2 separate regions of the Homo sapiens genome follow, and region 2 is linked to region 1. The links come from fine-mapping of genetic effects on gene expression. A gene starts in region 1. The other region holds a variant in brackets. All regions are shown on one strand. Distances are from middle to middle.

Region 1 (2,910 bases):
GTTGCAGTGAGCCAAGATTGCGCCACTGCACTCTAGCCTGGGCGACAAAGTAAGACTCCGTCTCAAAAAAAAAAAAAAAAAAAAAGAGAGAGAGAAAGAAATACAATAGATATTAAAGGAAAAAATGTAAAGGAAAAATTACCACATTTACATTTGTCTTTTCAGCATAGATGACATGCTCACGTTGAGGAATGTGTGTCACAAGAATTGTGTGTGACATATCCCCAAATTTCCACATTCAAAAGTCAGGGATAATATGGTATTCATCCGGGAATCAGTAACTCATGGGAAAAGCTCAAGATGTCATTCACTTTGGAGACCAGATGTAAAGGAGTAGTATGGGTACTTTGTCTCAGGGTGGAAAGTGTCTGTTATGGTTTTCTTCCTTCCCATGGGACTTGTTGCACACTCTTACAATGGCGGCAGGACCGGCACGCTTGCTTGCACAGCTGTGAGCTGCATGAAGGCAGGGATGGTTTTGGTCTTATCCGTTATGGCATCCCCTTGTGGCAAGTTAGGTGTTCAATAAATATCGGTGGAATGCATGTGATTACACTTCATGCCACAGTATATAAATATGATTTTAACTGGACAGGGAACTGCAAAAGTTTCCCATATTGATCCTTTTTGCAATCTTAATTATGGTACTCTGAGCTGGGATATTGCCTAAACTGTCTGGGCTACAACAAACTCTGAAGGGGCTTTTACTTCCACGTCCATAGTGGTTGAGGGTTCGCGTTGTGTGAACGCTGGAGCCTCACGTGAGTAGCTGAGTAGCGAGGATGGTCACTCCCAGATAAACGAATACAGGATTCTCGCGGCTGGGAGCGGTCGCCCGGCGAGGTCGGTCATTCTGCCTGTCCGGTAGCACCACGAAACACCTGCCACTGACACCTCCCCACCAGCCCCCGAGGGTTCGCGCAGGCATCCCGAGCCGCGCCCCCTGGTCCGCCGCAGCCAGATTCCCTCCCGGGCGGGTTACGCCCCTAGGCGCAAAACGGAACCACTCCGTATGAAGAAGACAAAGTATAACCAGTCACACCAAAGAGAGGCAGCATTATTTAGACAGCCGGCTACTCCCCCAGAGACTCCACCCAGTCCCCTGGGCCCGGCGTCCAGCGCGCAGACGGTGCCCGGCTCCAGGAGTTCCAGCTCCCTCCACGTGTCCTGTCTTCCCAGCAGCCTCCTCTGCCGCCTCGGGAGGAAAATCTCCTGACAACTCGCGGTCTGCGGACTACGACTCCCAGGAGGCGCCGCGCCGCGGCTCTCCCCGCCCCCCCCCGCCCCCCCCCCCCTCCCCGGGACGCGCAGGCGCCTTGGGCTCCGTCAACAAGCCGGGCTGGCGTCGCCTGGATGCGGTTTCTTCCGGGATTTGTAGTTTTTCTGGAGCTACCCGGGCCGTCTGTTAGAGGGACAAGAACTACAAGTCTCGGCTGCCCCAGCGCTGCGAGCCTGGTCACGTGGCGGGGGCCGACCGGGCGTGCGTGCCGCCGTTGATCCGGTGCTGCAGTGAGGAGGTGGTTCTTGCCCGTGTTGTGTGTGTGTGTGAGTGAGAGAGCGAGTGAGTGAGTGAGTGAGTGTGTGTGTGGGGGGGACTCGGCTTGTTGTTGTCGGTGACTTCCCCCTCCCCTTCACCCCTTCCCCTCCCCGCCGCCGCTGCAGTGGCCGCTCCCTGGGCCGTAGGAAATGAGCGATAACGATGACATCGAGGTGGAGAGCGACGTGAGTCCTGGGGCTTCTTCCTTCCCGTGCGGGTTGTCAGGCGGGGACAGCGGCCGGGGCTCTTAGCGGGGCGACGGCGGGAGGGGGCCGGGCTGCCGCCGCCTCCTTCCCCTTCCCCTCGGGGCCAGGAGTGCCTCCGTCGCGTTCCCGGTTCGCTCCCCTCCGGCTCCTGGCCGGAGCGGCCTCCTGGGACTGGAGGTTGGGGGAAGACACGCGGCTTCTGGGACCCCCACCTCCTCCCTTGCGGGAGGGTGCTGCGGCCTCCCGCTCCCACCTTCCCCGGCTCAGGATCCGGGGGACAAGGATGGGGGGCGCCCGGGATCCCATTGTCCGGATCCAGGGGAAGGGGACGGCGTTCAGGACCTGCCCCTTCGGACTGCGATCCTCTCCTCCCGTGACCCGCGGATCCTGGGGGCCGGGGAAGGGCGGAGAGGGGTTGGGGGTGCCTAGATGCCCGAGCTGGGTCTGCAGGGAGGAGACAGTGCTCGGGACCCCTCTGGCCCAGGTCGGATCCCGGAAGGAGGGGCGGCGCTCGGGACCCCTCTACCCTGCTACCGGATCCCGCCGAGGGTGGAAGGGTGGGGGCAAGGGGTGGGGAGGGAGGAAGGGGTGTCGGGCTGACTCCCCACCCTCCGCTTCCTCTGCCGCCGGCATTTTCTTTCTTATTATTGAATGTTAAGTGTAAAAATAACTTCTATATTTTCTATTTTTTTTTTTCTCTCTTATTCCAGGAAGAGCAACCGAGGTTTCAATCTGCGGTACGTCTCCTACTCTCCATTTCATTTTTATTTCCGTTCAGTTCTATTCCTTTTTGGGGTCAGAGAGAAAAAGAGATCGTACTATTACTTTTAATATTGTAGTAAACTCTAATGTTAACCACTAAGGTGAGGTGGGGCCTGGTTCTGGAGGGTGGGGGGGTTGCAAATCCCATTATTCTAGATTCTCAGGTGATAAGTTCAGTGATTCTAGGTGAGTAAGAGGAGCTGTATGCAAAGAATTGAATTGTTCTGTAGTTTTCAGATAGGGGATCCAGATGCCACTATGTAAGTGGAAATGAGAAATGCAGCATTCTGGTCTGGTAGTATTATTTCAGGGCAAAGTGGTCAGAAGATTTATTTAGGAACAAGTAGGTTTTAAACCATATCTGTATAATTGTGTGAAGCTGAAGCCACATGCGGTAATCGCCTT
Region 2 (2,910 bases), 24 kb after region 1:
CTACCACCTCTTATCAATACTAATCATTTTTCATTCCATCTCCAGTATCCAGAGAGGAAGGTATTTTAATTAGTCCCTTCTAATTATGTGCTCCTTTTTTCCACCCCATTTTGTCACCTAATAAACCCTAATAAGGTCCCTTTGTAGAAATGGGAAACAGTGTCTGAAGTATCCATTGCTAGGCTAGGAACTCTCATTCCTTCTGCATAAGCTGACTGACTCAACTAAAGAAACGCATCTCACTTTTTCCCCATCCCATCTTGACTGTGCTATTCCAAACGCCACCTTGGTCTAACACAGGGCTCACCATTTCAGATAGGAGCGTGTTGCATGCACACATGCAGCACCAAGGCCAATGCGTAGCACACAGTAGGTAATCACCCCAGCCAGAAGCCATCTTTCCCGTGGTGTCTCTAGTCTCTGCTAGTCAGGTTACGCTTGTCAGCACTGCCCTGTGATATTTCCATGTATAGACATATTTATCTCCTCAACTAGATAGTAAGTAAGCTTTGGGGCAAAGAAGCCATGACTAATACATTTTGTTTCCCCACAGTATCTGCCTAGTATCTTGTACGTAATTTGCACCTGATAAAAATGGTTGATTATGAACAATTTCCTTGAGGAAATTACCTTAAGGGTGCTAAAGAGGAAAGCCTGGAAATTCTAGTACTTGTGAGGACTTATGAATAAGCACGGGCCTTACAAACCTTTCTGAAACTCAGCCCAAACTGAGGCCTATAAATTGAGATTGTTAGGATTTAATATGAGTAGATCTGGTTTTGCTAGCCACGGTGTACATGTTTTCTTTGTCTTTCTCCCGCTGTTGTGTTCTGGTTGTTTAGGACCCATTGGGCTTGTAATACAGAATTGTCAAGCACTCCCTACCCTGAGTAAGAAGCTTTCCGGCTGCTCAGGAGTCTCTGGCTGGAAGGCCATACTTAAGCTACTAGGCTACCCCGCCTTGAGCTTCGCTTGGCTTTGTACTATTCTACCAGTTTGGCTGGCTGCCTGGCCATAAGTAACTCTGACTATGTTTGTAGCCTGGAGAGAATCTCCCAGACAAGTTTGATGTCTAGGGGCACAGTAACATGACATCCATGTTATTGACTTACGAACTTACTCTAGCAAGGCAGTACCCAGGCAACCCACAGCCATTGTAGAGGTGTGGTTGTTTCCTGAAATGGCCCAATCTCATGCTCTTCCTGTGTTGACATCAAGCACCGACAGCTTTTTATGAAAGTCTCTTTAGCCAGGAAGGCTGAAGTAGTGACACAGCAGCAT[T/C]GTTCAGTTCGGAATAGTTAACAGTGGTTTCAGAGTTTGGCTGGAATCTTGGGTCTTGATGAAACACATTGTACCCATTCCTGTCTCAAGCCAGGCCCTAGCAGAATTAGTGACCTAAAGCTTTCATTTAAGTAGTATTTTAATGTTTCCAGACATAGCCAAGCTAAAGACTTTAAAGCAACCTAAAGAACCAGAGGAGATGGGAGGAGTACAGTTCAGGAGTCGGATGGCTCTGAGTTTAAAGCCAGGCCATGCTACTGTGCAGCTGGTGATTTTGAATAAAGCGGTGTACTTCTCTGATCCTTGGGTTCTTAGTAGAGCTACCTCTGAGACTAATCTTGTGAGTTAAGCTCTGTAAAGCACTTGGCACCTTGTATGTCACAAAGAAGGCCTTCACGGATGCAGTGGCTCACGCCTGTAATCCCAGCAGTTTGGGAGGCCGAGGTAGGTGGATCACCTGAGGTGAGGAGTTTGAGACCAGTCTGGCCAACATGGTGAAACCCCATCTTTATTAAAAATGTAAAAATTAGCCAGGCAACGTGGCATGTACTTGTAATCCCAGCTACTCTGGAGGCTGAGGCAGAAGAATCACTTGAACCTGGGAGGTGGAGGTTGCAGTGAGCTGAGATCACACCACTCTACTCCAGCCTGGGCAACAGAGCGAGACTACGTCTCCAAAAAAAAAAAAACAACAACAACAACAACAACAACAGGCTGGGCGCAGTGGCTCACACCTGTGACCTATAATCCCAGCATTTTGGGAGGCCAAGGTGGGCAGATCACCTGAGGCCAGGAGTTTGAGACCAGCCTGGCTAACATGGTGAAACCGCATTTCTACTAAAAATACAAAAAAATTAGATGGGCGTGGTGGCGCACACCTATAATCCTAGCTACTCAGGAGGCTGAGGCAGGAGAATCACTTGAACCCAGGAGGCGGAGGTTGCTGTCAGCCAAGATCACGCTGTTGCACTCCAGCTTGGGCAACAAGAGCGAAACTCTGTCTCAAAAAAATAAAAAAATAAATAAATAAATAAAGCCTACAGTAGCCATTATTGTATTTCTTCAGCCTTTTCCCACCTTACCCTCTCGTTTCCAGCCACCCAAGCAGTTGCTGCAGGCCAGGTTCCCTCACTGCCTGGATTGGGTTTTTATTTTGTCCCCTGTGCTTTTTCTCATATTGCCACAGGCATCCCGGGCCCAAATCCTAGACAAAGCCACAGAATATATCCAGTATATGCGAAGGAAAAACCACACACACCAGCAAGATATTGACGACCTCAAGCGGCAGAATGCTCTTCTGGAGCAGCAAGGTGAGCACCCGAGCTCGTGGGGCAGCTGGCCCTGCTGTGCTCCAGCCAGGTCAGGCTTTGGCACCTGGGCCTGCAGAGTCAGAGCCAGTCATGGAGTATGTGCTCAGTAGCAGGCTTGGTCCTGCTTCTTGGGGCCTGAGTAACTGAGTGTTAGAGCCGTCCTGAGGAAGGACCTGAGGCGCCAGTGAGGAGACAGTGGAAGCTAGGAAGTTGGACATCTGGAGACTTGTATCTTTTCTGGCCTGACCTCTCCCCTTCTTGGGGCTCAGGTGCTCTGCCTGCAGTAGGGATCACACCTGGCATCAGGTGTCTGAAAAGA

Evidence for each region. PIP is the estimated chance that this variant, and not a neighbour inherited with it, causes the effect.
Region 2: its variant is fine-mapped to the expression of MAX in whole blood (TOPMed, PIP above 0.99).

What each region holds. Positions count from the first base shown.
Region 1 is chr14:65,101,116-65,104,025 of GRCh38, reverse strand. MAX (MYC associated factor X) reads left to right here and starts at 1,509. Exons shown (of 5, transcript NM_002382.5): 1 at 1,509-1,722; 2 at 2,454-2,480. The coding sequence starts at 1,687. RefSeq lists enhancers at 1,095-1,244, 1,938-2,438 and a silencer at 1,575-1,924.
Region 2 is chr14:65,077,594-65,080,503 of GRCh38, reverse strand. It overlaps MAX (MYC associated factor X), which reads left to right. Exons shown (of 5, transcript NM_002382.5): 4 at 2,468-2,591. Among named protein-coding and RNA genes, the nearest start is that of MAX-AS1, 11 kb to the left of the region's middle. RefSeq lists an enhancer at 2,126-2,910. The variant T/C (reference allele first, on the strand shown) is at 1,282.